3 linked regions of the Homo sapiens genome follow. The protein of the gene in region 1 interacts with the protein of each later gene in a biochemical or structural test. Each region holds a gene or a part of one and is shown on either strand. Other genes may lie near its edges. The genes, in order: USP21, NANOG and ISG15.

Region 1 (3,747 bases):
TTAATTAGGCCTAGGCAGAGTCCCAGTAGAGAAGGTGCAAGCAAGGGAAAGGAAGGGCCTGGGGACCCAAAGAAGAATTCTAAATAGTTGGGGTAATCCCCTGGGGACCGAAATGGCACACCATGCTGAAGAGTCACCAACAACCCAAAAAAGGGTCTAGGAGGCTCAAGGGTATTTAAGCAAGGGAGAGGCATGTCCAAACTGCTGTAATGAAGGGCTGAGAAAGGAACTTCAGGGAAATGGGGGACAGAAAAGGCAGAGGATGGCAGGAAAGCACAGAGGAACATGGGCATGAAGGCCATGTGTGTGGCAAGTCCTCACCATCTTGTCATCAGAGTAGAAAGGCTCAGAGGACCGGGCGGATATCATGTGGAAGGAGCCATGGGAAGCAGGGGGCTCTGTCCGTATGCTGAACAGGGTAGGGGGTCCAGGAAAGCCCCCTAGGCGGCGGAGAGAAGTGCTACGTCTCAAAGTGGGTGGCTCAGGCCGGAGGGCCAAGCGGCTCAGTGCAGCCCCAAGCTCTCCGGTGCCACGGTGCCCTCCCAAGGCAATCCCCATTGGACGCAAGTCCCCACTGCTCACAGACTTGGAACGGGCTAAGTTGGTCCGAGATGGGAGAGGCAAAGCCACTGTTGGGGGTGGTGAGCCAGGCAGGGGAACCCCATGATCTGCTCGAAGGGGGCCTCTGGGACGAGGGCCTGAGGTCCGTCCCCGTCCCAGCTCCAGTTTCTTGAGCCGTTCATCAGGCAGACCTGGCCGGGGAGGCAGAGGTCGTAACATGGGGTTTGGCCCAGAGGCTGGGTTTCTGCGCTCCTTGCTGCGGGCCCTGGGGGCAAATGGTAGCTTGGATCCCACTCGGGGCTGGATATTAACAGGTGGCTCTCGGGTACGGCCCAGGCGGTGCTCAGAGGCCTGGGGCATTGTGGACACCACAGGCTGGACCTGGGAGGAGAAGAGAGTGTCAGCATTTGAATATGGGGGGAAATGGGAACCCAGGCTGCTGTACTGAACCCTGCCACACTAATTTTCCCTTATTGCTTTGCCCCATTCCATACCCACAATCTTGCTGTCCTCTCATTTCCACATTAGGTGGTTGGCTCAGTCATCACCACTACCACATCAACGAAAGTGGGGAGCAGTATACGCACTGAGGGCAGGAACCAGATCTATCGAATCAGCCATCGTATCCCCAGTACCTGGCATCGTGTTTGGTACAAAGTAAATACTTAGTATCTATTGGGTAAACAAATGAATGAAAGATAAGCAGCCCATGGCTTTGACCCTTTCTATACTCCCGACCCCTCCCTGCAGAACACATCTTTACTGAAAAGCCAGTGATAACTCCTATCTCGGCTCTAACGTAACATGGGACCCCATACCCGGCTAGTAAAGTAGGATGTGCCTCGGGTCACTTAAGACCCTAGCCAAATGGTAGTGTAGATGCAAGAATAACAGCCCAAAAGACAGCCCTCCATCCTCGAATCCCTGCCTCTCTGGGCTGCAAATGAAGCAGACTATATGGGTGACTTACGATCCATTCCCTCCCCCACCTCCGACCTCCGACATGGTGTCGAGGTTCAGAAAGCAGTAGTCGGGGATGGAGGACGAACAACTCCTTGACCCTTAATCTCTGCACTTCTCCCACCACAGCAGGGCTTTAGCCGGGTCCGCCCCCCTCGAGGGCAGAAAGGCCGAGACCGCTGATTGGCTACGGAATCCGGCGGCGTATTCCCCGCGGTCCAGGGATGCTGTCCCTCCAGCCCAGTTCTCCCAGGCCCCGCCGGGCCCCACGCGCCTTTGTGGAGAGTGTCCTCTCGGGTCTGGAGCAGTCTTCCCTCTGCGCCCCCCCACACCCCGCCATGCCATAACGCCCCGGCCCGTACCTGTCCCCCAGTGAGGCGGCGGGAGAGGCCAGCCAGGGCCAGGCCCCAGTTCAGGGCCACCCCCTACTACCCCCGTGCAGCCCCCCCGTGGGCCCGGCTGCAGCTTTAGCCGCAGCCGTTGCCCAGATCGCTCCCGCCGCAGGGGCCGCCGCCATCTTTGTTGGTCCCGCCCGGCCACCGGCCACCGGCTTCACCGTCTCTCAAAGCGCCTGCGCATCCACACCCGAACTCCTCCCACCGGTCCCTTGGCGCTTGCGTGAGCCCGCCCCCACGGCTCCGCGATCGACACCATGGAAACGCAGCCAAGTTTAGGGTCGCTGGTTCTCAACGCTGCCCAGAGAGGTCTTTAATCCATGACTCCAAAGCAAGTCCCTGAGGTATAGGGTGCCGTCGCCCCATCCTATAGCCCATAGGGATGGAGATCTGACAGTCGTAGTATGGCCGCGAGGCTTACAGCACAGATCCTTCCCAAACAGCAGGGGCGCAAGTATGGCAAACTGCAGGCCTGGGTCCAGCCCGCAGACCAGTGGAGAAGCATCTAGCACTTCACAGAGGGCTGGGAAGATCCCTGGAGGGCGGGAAGTGCTGGTCCGGCAAAACCACTTCTTGCAGGCTAACACGGTAGGGCAAAGCATGGCTCACCACTAAAGGACAAAGGTAGATCTGAGCAGCAGGGGGAACAGTCAACATTTCATTCCCACTCCTGACCAGAGCATCCCCTATTTCCGACTCTTTCCCAACCCAACCCGGCGTAGCTGTTCATGTGCCTCAGGTTTCAGCCCACTTGCCCTCTGTTAACAGCTCCCAATGAGAACCACAGGCTACCAGAGGAAGCAGCTTTTATTGATGGGTTATCTCCAGAAACCAGAAAGACTATATGTACTCACTTTCAGTTACCCCCGTGCCTCCAGAATCGCATGTTGCTCCACCTGGGGGCGGATATAAATTACCTCTAGATTGTCCAAAGCCCAGTCTTTCCCTTCCCTGTGCAGCCTTAGAAACTAAGTAGCAGTACTGTTTGGTGTGTGTTTGTTTCTTCCCCAGCAATGCCTACTGCAGCTACTTAGTAACAACTAGAGGTGGAGGGTGTCCGGGGAAGCAGTTAGATGAGTTAAGTGTGATGCACAGGAAAATAGTATCGTAGCCTATCAAAGGTCCCTCTGCCCTGCCTCAGTGGCTTGATTCTTCATTGGTTGCATTTCTCTTTGTGTTGGATGACGCCCTTCTGAATCAGATCAGGGATTTCCACTGCCAGCCATGGACCCAGCTGCAATACAAGGAAAATCCTGTGAGATTACTACCAGTCAATGCTTCTTGTTCCATTAGAAGCTCCTTCCTGGAGACAGATTCTGGGGGAACATGCTTAAGGGACATCACTGTTATTCCTTTTATTCTTAGCTGCTTTTCTTGTACTGCTCAGGGCCTAAGTCCCTCTTTCTCCTTTTATGCCAAATACACAAAACTTACCCCCAGAGCCATGAGATGAGCTAGTCCAAATTTGGGCACATTCCTGGCCCACAAAGGTTTGAAATGATCCGTCAGGCATATTTTGCCACCCCTATGAGAGGGACATGAAGAAGGTGTTGACATGCAAAGTTTACCATAAAGCACAGCAGCCTCTTGGGGGCATAGGAAGACTACTAGTGATCAGAATTGAGAACAAGTTCAGCTAAGTACTTTGCTTAGGCTCAGCAAAGGAGGGCCTGGCACCCCACTAGGCCAGCAGACCCTGGGAAAATCTCTGCCTCCAAAGTTCTTCCTTTTTTTTTTTTTCCTTACATCTTTTAAGTTCAGAGGTACACATGCAGGATGTATAGGTTTGTTACATAGGTAAACGTGCCATGGTGATTTACACATAGATCAT
Region 2 (3,747 bases), on another chromosome or scaffold:
CCCAACCAAAAATTTAACAAAGATTTATGTTTAAGCTGTATATTTACTCATTGAAACACTCGGTGAAATCAGGGTAAAATCAACTAAAGGAAAAATAGTTGTTTCATTCATTTGAACTTAAACCAACTAAAGCAGTACTCATGTCATTACGATGCAGCAAATACGAGACCTCTTTCTACAAAGATTAGCACAACCAACAAATTAGGGGATATAGCAAAACAGAGCCAAAAACGGTAAGAAATCAATTAAGTATGTTACAGCTTAACCCTTTACCTCAATAGTTTTTAAAAAATAAGCAAAGCCTCCCAATCCCAAACAATACGAATACATCTTCATCACCAATTTGTACTTGTATTTCTTATTCTTGAGGTTAGATTCTAAACCCTAAAGATATCCAAACTAGTATTAGATCTACTTATCTATAGCCAGAGACGGCAGCCAAGGTTATTAAAATGTCTTTTCTAGGCAGGGCGCGGTGGCTCACGCCTGTAAATCCCAGCTGTTAGGGAGGCCGAGGCGGGTGGATCACAAGGTCAGGAGATCGAGACCATCCTGGCTAACACAGTGAAACCCCGTCTCTACTAAAAATACAAAATATTAGCCGGGCGAGGTGGCGGGCGCCTGTAGTCCCAGCTGCTCGGGAGGCTGAGGCAGGAGAATGGCGTGAACCCGGGAGACGGAGCTTGCAGTGAGCCAAGACCGCGCCACTGCACTCCAGCCTGGGCGACAGAGCAAGACTCCGTTTCAAAAAAAAAAAAAAAAAAAGTATTTTCTCCAGGAAGATCCAATAGGAAAAAAAAAAAAAAAGAAACCTCGCTGATTAGGCTCCAACCATACTCCACCCTCCATGAGATTGACTGGATGGGCATCATGGAAACCAGAACACGTGGTTTCCAAACAAGAAAAATCCTATGAGGGATGGGAGGAGGGGAGAGGAAGGATTCAGCCAGTGTCCAGACTGAAATTGAGTAATATCAGTTTCACTCATCTTCACACGTCTTCAGGTTGCATGTTCATGGAGTAGTTTAGGAATAAATCCATGGTTTGTGGAGTACTAAAATACCTAGTGGTCTGCTGTATTACATTAAGGCCTTCCCCAGCAGCTTCCAAGGCAGCCTCCAAGTCACTGGCAGGAGAATTTGGCTGGAACTGCATGCAGGACTGCAGAGATTCCTCTCCACAGTTATAGAAGGGACTGTTCCAGGCCTGATTGTTCCAGGATTGGGTGCACCAGGTCTGAGTGTTCCAGGAGTGGTTGCTCCAGGACTGGATGTTCTGGGTCTGGTTGCTCCAGGTTGAATTGTTCCAGGTCTGGTTGCTCCACATTGGAAGGTTCCCAGTCGGGTTCACCAGGCATCCCTGGTGGTAGGAAGAGTAAAGGCTGGGGTAGGTAGGTGCTGAGGCCTTCTGAAAGAGAAGGAGGGATTAACAGAAAGGGTACAAGGACAACCAGAACTGTCTGTGACTGGAGTTGTGTGTTTCAGGGATGGACAAGATTGAAAGATCACTGAAAGGAAAGAACAGAATGAAGTTTCCTGTTACCTGCGTCACACCATTGCTATTCTTCGGCCAGTTGTTTTTCTGCCACCTCTTAGATTTCATTCTCTGGTTCTGGAACCAGGTCTTCACCTGCAGGAAAAAATGATAGAAATTGTAAAATATTCATAATACAGAGGTACTTTGAATCAAAGTATATTGCTAACTTTTATTCCTGGCCAGGTGCCATATCTCATGCCTGTAATCCCAACACTTTGGAAGGCCAAGGCGGGCAGATTGCTTGAGCCCAGGAGTTCGCTACAGGCTAGCCAACATGAGGAAACACCGTGTCTACAAAAATACAAAAAATTAGCCGGGTGTAATGCTGCACGTCTGTGGTCCCAGCTTCTCAGGAGGCTGAGACGGGAGGATCGCTTGCACCTGGGAAGTGAAGGCTGCAGTGAGCCAAGATTGCATCACTGCACTCCAGCTGCGTGACAACAGAACCAGACTGTCTCAGAAAAAAAGAGAGAAATGAACATTTTGGATAGAAAATAAAGGCAAGGGCCGGGTGTGGTAGTTCACACCTGTAATCCTAGCACTTTAGGAGGCAGAGGCACGTGGATCACTTGAGGTCAGGAGTTGAAAACCAGCCTGGCCAACATGGTGAAGCCCCATCTCTACTAAAAAATACAGTAAAATTAGCCAGGTGTAGTGGCGGGCGCCTGTAATCCCAGCTACTTGGGAGGCTGAGGCAGGAGAATCCCTTGAACCCAGGAGGTGGAGGTTTCATCCATTTGTACTTAAACCAAGTAATGCTAATGTCATTATGATGTCTCATTATGAGGCCACTGCACTCCAGCCTGGGAGACAGAGTGAGACTCCGTCTCAAAAATAAACAAAAGAAAAGAAGGAAATAAAGCCTAGAAGAGGATAAGCCAATTAATGAAGGAAAATGGCCAACAAGTAATAAACAATGATTGGCCTTATTGAATGCACACAGATAAAAAACAAAACAAGCTGGAGTTGCTGGCAGAAAGAAAAAAAGGAAAAAAAAAGTTTTTATTTTAATGAGAACCAGTGTGAGTTAGGGTTTCTCCTACCCTGGTAAGTGGAGTTAGATACTTCTTTTTTATTAAGGAAACGTTGGAAAGATTTTCACAATATTGGTCTGTGCAAGAAAGTGGTTAAATTATGACATAATTATTCACATAATAGAATATTTAAGGAAAGAAAGAGGTGAAGGAAGTTACAAAAGCATTTCATCTTCATAAATTATTTGCAAGAGGCGATGTACGGACACATAGTACACACATCTACATGCATCCACAGAGGTCTTAGCCATGCAAATTAGTCCAATTTTTGTTCACCTTATTCCAAGGACAAAACAAGCCTACCTGTTTGTAGCTGAGGTTCAGGATGTTGGAGAGTTCTTGCATCTGCTGGAGGCTGAGGTATTTCTGTCTCTGAAATCTATCATTGAGTACACACAGCTGGGTGGAAGAGAACACAGTTCTGGTCTTCTGTTTCTTGACCGGGACCTTGTCTTCCTTTTTTGCGACACTCTTCTCTGCAGAAGTGGGTTGTTTGCCTTTGGGACTGGTGGAAGAATCAGGGCTGTCCTGAATAAGCAGATCCATGGAGGAAGGAAGAGGAGAGACTGTTGGGAACAAATAAAAGGACACTTTTGTCTAAAATTTTTCAAATATTAAAATATCCTTTAAAAAAATTGTTTTCAAAGTACTTTGATAATTCCCAGAACCCCAGATCTAAGTAATAAGAAGCAATTTCTTAAGCAGCCCTGGCACTTTGGCAAGCTTTATATAGTATTACTCCAAGAAGTCTTATCAGTATCTCCATTTTGTACATAATAGACTGCGTTGGGAGAGATCTATAATGGTGGCCAATGCATTGCTGAGCGGCGCTACCCCTTTTTTTTAAAATTAGGATGGAGGTTCACTCTTGTTGCCCAGGCTGAAGTGCGATGGTGCAATCTCGGCTCACTGCAACCTCCATCTCCTGGGTTCAAGCGATTCTCCTGCCTCAGCCTCCTGAGTAGCTGGGATTACAGGCAGGCACCATCACGCCTGGCTAATTTTGTATTTTTAGTAGAGACAGGGTTTCTCAATGTTGGTGAGGCTGGTCTCGAACTCCTGACCTCGTGATCCGCCTGCCTCGGCCTCCCGAAGTACTGAGATTACAGGTGTGAGCCACCTCATCAGGCCGGCGCTACCACCTTTTGCTTTAAACTGATGCTCAAAAGCTCCCACA
Region 3 (3,747 bases), about 160 Mb from region 1:
TGTGAGTGCTCAGGACCTGTCTCTACCCCTCCCTAGCCCAGCCCAGGCAGGTGGAGCAGGCTGTGTAGGCTGGGCTAGGGACGGCTGAGGTCCCCAGCCCCCAGTTCCTATGGAGAGCCTGCCTCACAGCCCACCGGGCAGGCCCCAAGGACTCACCCCTTACTGCTCCCAGGGGCCCACTGGGAGCCTCCCCTTTTGATCTGATCAGGCGGGTCCCTGCCTAAGCCGTCTGCTGTCCCAGATGGAGGACAGGCAGGATGGGCTCCAGCAACTGTGTCTCTTTTTCTTTTCCTAGAAGTTAATTTCCCAAAGGGTGGGGAGAGCTGTCTTACTTCAGTTTCGGGGTGGGGGGCTCCCTATTTTGATCCCTCGAAGCTGTAACTGCAAACCCTTATCCCTTCACTTGGCAGCCCAGGCCTGGTCACCAGGATGGACCCTGGGTTCTCCCTCCTGACTTCTCCCGCCCCATCACCAGGGGTCTGAGGCGGACGCTGGAGGAGGGGCAAGCACAGACACAGAGGCGGCCATTTCTCTTTACAACAGCCTTTATTTCCGGCCCTTGATCCTGCTCGGATGCTGGTGGAGGCCCTTAGCTCCGCCCGCCAGGCTCTGTGCCGCCTCCCCGCAGGCGCAGATTCATGAACACGGTGCTCAGGGGCTTGAGGCCGTACTCCCCCAGCGGGAGCTGGTCCTCCAGGGGCTTCCCCTCGAAGGTCAGCCAGAACAGGTCGTCCTGCACACCCTCCAGCCCGCTCACTTGCTGCTTCAGGTGGGCCACGGTCTGCGTCAGCCGTACCTCGTAGGTGCTGCTGCGGCCCTTGTTATTCCTCACCAGGATGCTCAGAGGTTCGTCGCATTTGTCCACCACCAGCAGGACCGTGCTGCCGGGGCCCAGGCCCTGGCTGGCAAGGGGGACCCTGTCCTGCAGCGCCACACCGCTCGGGTGGACAGCCAGACGCTGCTGGAAGGCGTGCACGCCGATCTTCTGGGTGATCTGCGCCTTCAGCTCTGACACCGACATGGAGCTGCTCAGGGACACCTGGAATTCGTTGCCCGCCAGCATCTTCACCGTCAGGTCCCAGCCCTGCAGGCGTCACACAGGTTCAGAGACTGCGGCGCCAGCCCCAGGCCCACCACACACAAGGCACTGGCTGCAGGGCGAGCTCCTGTACCCAGGGACAGTGCTCCCTCCTGTCTGTCCTCTACATCCCGCCGGCAGGGACCCCAGGCACAGAAGGCACTGAGGGCTCGTTACTAGAAGGCCAGCTGCCCACCGCCATCCCGTGGCCTCCCTTTACCTGCTAGGGTGCCCCTCTGTGCCCCACCCTGAGGATCTCAGGGGTGACCTGCTTTCAGGAGCACACTTAGAACCTGGCCAAGCTCTGAGCAGCTCCGCTCTCCCTGCACCCCTGGGAGACCTTGGCTGGGGGAGGGAGACGAAAATTGGCTGGCACAGAGCCCACCTCCCCCCACCTGTGACATCTGCCTTACCATGGCTGTGGGCTGTGGGCTGTGGGCCACGGCACAAGCTCCTGTACTGGCAAAGATGAGTTCGCTGCCTCTCAGCCGCCGGCTTCGGCAGGCAGCACCGGCCCTATTATAAGCCTGAGGCACACACGTCAGGGGGCGTGCCGCCGAGCCTGCGCTGGTGGCCAAATTTGGCTTCAGTTTCGGTTTCCCTTTCCCGAGGCATGCCCCAGAGTGAGCGGAAGAAACAAAACCGAATGACCGAAAGACAGGGAAAAGCAAAAGTGGCGGGGACTCCGGACAGCGGACGGCATCCCCACCCCCACCCAACACCCTGGAAACACCTAAATATCGCGCATTCCAGATCCTTCACAGGATGCACTAAAGCTGTCATCACATGGACTAATGGTTTCATTTTCCATTTACCAACTTGCAAAATTAGTAAACTTGGAAAACATCCCCATGGTTAATTGAGAAACAAGAACTCCAAACTACCCAGAGATAACAACACTCGGTTTAGGGCAGTATTTGCTCAGATTGGTGTTTTTTTGTTGTTGTTTTTGTGTTTTTGAGACAGGGTCTCTCACTCTGTCGCCCAGGCTGGAGTGCAGAGGCACGATCTCATCTCATTGCAACCTCCGCCTGCCAGGCTAAAGCGATCCTCTCACCTCAGCCTCCCACGTAGCTGGGACCACAGGGGTGCACCACCAGGCCCGGCTAATTTTTTGTATTTTTAGTAGAGATGGGGGTCTCGCCATGTCGCCCAGGCTGATCTCGAACTCCTGGGCTCAAGTGATCCACCTGCCTCGGCCTCTGAAACTGCTGGGATTACAGGCGTGAGCCACTGCACCCGGAGCCTCAGATTGTTTTTTAATAAAAGAGACCTATCTTTTATTTTCTACAAAAATGAACTCTGGGACACTATTGAGAAAGTGAAAAGACAATCCATAGAATGGGAAGAAATATTTGCAAATTATCTATCTGATGAGGGCATAGCATCCAGGACATATAGAGAACTCTTACAACTCAATAAAAAATAAAAATAAAAAAAAAAGGCAACTCAATTTTCAAATGGCCAAAAGACTTCAATAGACATTTCTCCAATGACATAGAAACGGCTGTAAAGTGATGTTCAACATCATTATTAATTGGGGAAATGCAAATCAAAACCCCAGTGAGATGCTATTTCCTGCTGGTATGACTGTAATAATAAAAATAAAGGCCAGGCCGGGTGCGGTGGCTCACGCCTGCAATCCCAACACTTTGGGAGGCTGAGGCGGGCGGATCACCTAAGGTCAGGAGTTTGAGACCAGCCTGGCCAACATTTTTAGTAGAAACCCCATCTCTACTAAAAATACAAAAATTAGCTGGGCGTGGTGGTGCACGCCTGTAATCCCAGCTACTTGGGAGGCTGAGGCGGGAGAATCCCTTGAACCCAGGAGGCAGAGATTGTGGTGAGCCAAGATTGCACCAATGCACTCCAGCCTGGGCAGCAGAGCAAGACAGTCTCAAAAAATAATATAAAATAAACATAAAGGCAGTAACAAGCACTGGGGAATACATAGAGGAACTGGAATCCTGGTACATGCATTGCTGTTGAGAATGTAAAACAGTGCGGCCGCCGCGATGCTCAAAACGTTCAACAGAATTATTGGGAACCCAGCAGTTCCACTTCTAGGCATGTGTCCAAAAGAATTGAAAATAGGTGTTCAAATACTTGCATACAAATGTCCATGGCAGCACAGTTTACAATAAACAAGTAGCAGGAACGGAGCACATGTCCATCAGTGATGGATGGACACACAAAGTGTGGAATGTCCACACAACGGAATATTATGCAGCCATGAAAAGGACTGAGGCACTGATTCATGTGAAAGAACCTTGAAAACGTTATGCTAAGTGGAAAGAGCCAGACACGAAGGCCGCAGAGTGTTGGTTCCATTCACCGCAGGGGAAACGACCGGAACTGGTAGAGCCGCAGCACAGGAAGCCGACCCCGTTACCGGGGGCCAGGGAGGGGGAGTGGGGGGTGATTGCTTCAGAGCCACAAGCCCCTTTGGGGGTGACAATGTTTCAGAACTCCACAGAGGTGATGGTTGGACAACGTGGTAAATAACTAAACGCCACTGGATTTCATTCTTTAAAATGGTTAGTTTTATGTTATATGAATTTCACATCAATAAAAAGCAAAGGTGAAAAGGCCTCACCATACTTTCACTGTTTTGTAACCTGCTTCATTCATGCAACAGTGTATCATAAACATCTATCCAGGCCAGGCGG

Evidence for each region.
Region 2: the proteins of USP21 (region 1) and NANOG form a complex in vitro, tested with the Homo sapiens proteins (3 studies listed by BioGRID, with this or other methods).
Region 3: the proteins of USP21 (region 1) and ISG15 form a complex in vitro, tested with the Homo sapiens proteins (2 studies listed by BioGRID, with this or other methods).

Annotation. Positions count from the first base shown.
Region 1 is NC_000001.11:161,157,815-161,161,561, reverse strand, and holds the start of USP21 (ubiquitin carboxyl-terminal hydrolase 21), read right to left. Parts: upstream 2,063-3,747; 5' UTR 1,884-2,062; exon of another isoform or gene 1,862-1,883; coding exon of another isoform or gene 1,796-1,861; exon of another isoform or gene 1,197-1,795; 5' UTR 1,056-1,196; exon of another isoform or gene 943-1,055; coding exon of another isoform or gene 922-942; coding exon 322-921; intron 1-321. Other genes in the region: UFC1 (ubiquitin-fold modifier-conjugating enzyme 1), read right to left, coding at 3,070-3,150, 3,351-3,441. UniProt on the Homo sapiens protein: Deubiquitinates histone H2A, a specific tag for epigenetic transcriptional repression, thereby acting as a coactivator.
Region 2 is NC_000012.12:7,792,339-7,796,085, reverse strand, and holds part of NANOG (homeobox protein NANOG), read right to left. Parts: intron 3,137-3,747; coding exon 2,874-3,136; intron 1,630-2,873; coding exon 1,543-1,629; intron 1,408-1,542; coding exon 991-1,407; 3' UTR 1-990. UniProt on the Homo sapiens protein: Transcription regulator involved in inner cell mass and embryonic stem (ES) cells proliferation and self-renewal. Imposes pluripotency on ES cells and prevents their differentiation towards extraembryonic endoderm and trophectoderm lineages.
Region 3 is NC_000001.11:1,011,321-1,015,067, reverse strand, and holds ISG15 (ubiquitin-like protein ISG15), read right to left. Parts: upstream 1,572-3,747; 5' UTR 1,495-1,571; coding exon 1,492-1,494; intron 1,085-1,491; coding exon 590-1,084; 3' UTR 528-589; downstream 1-527.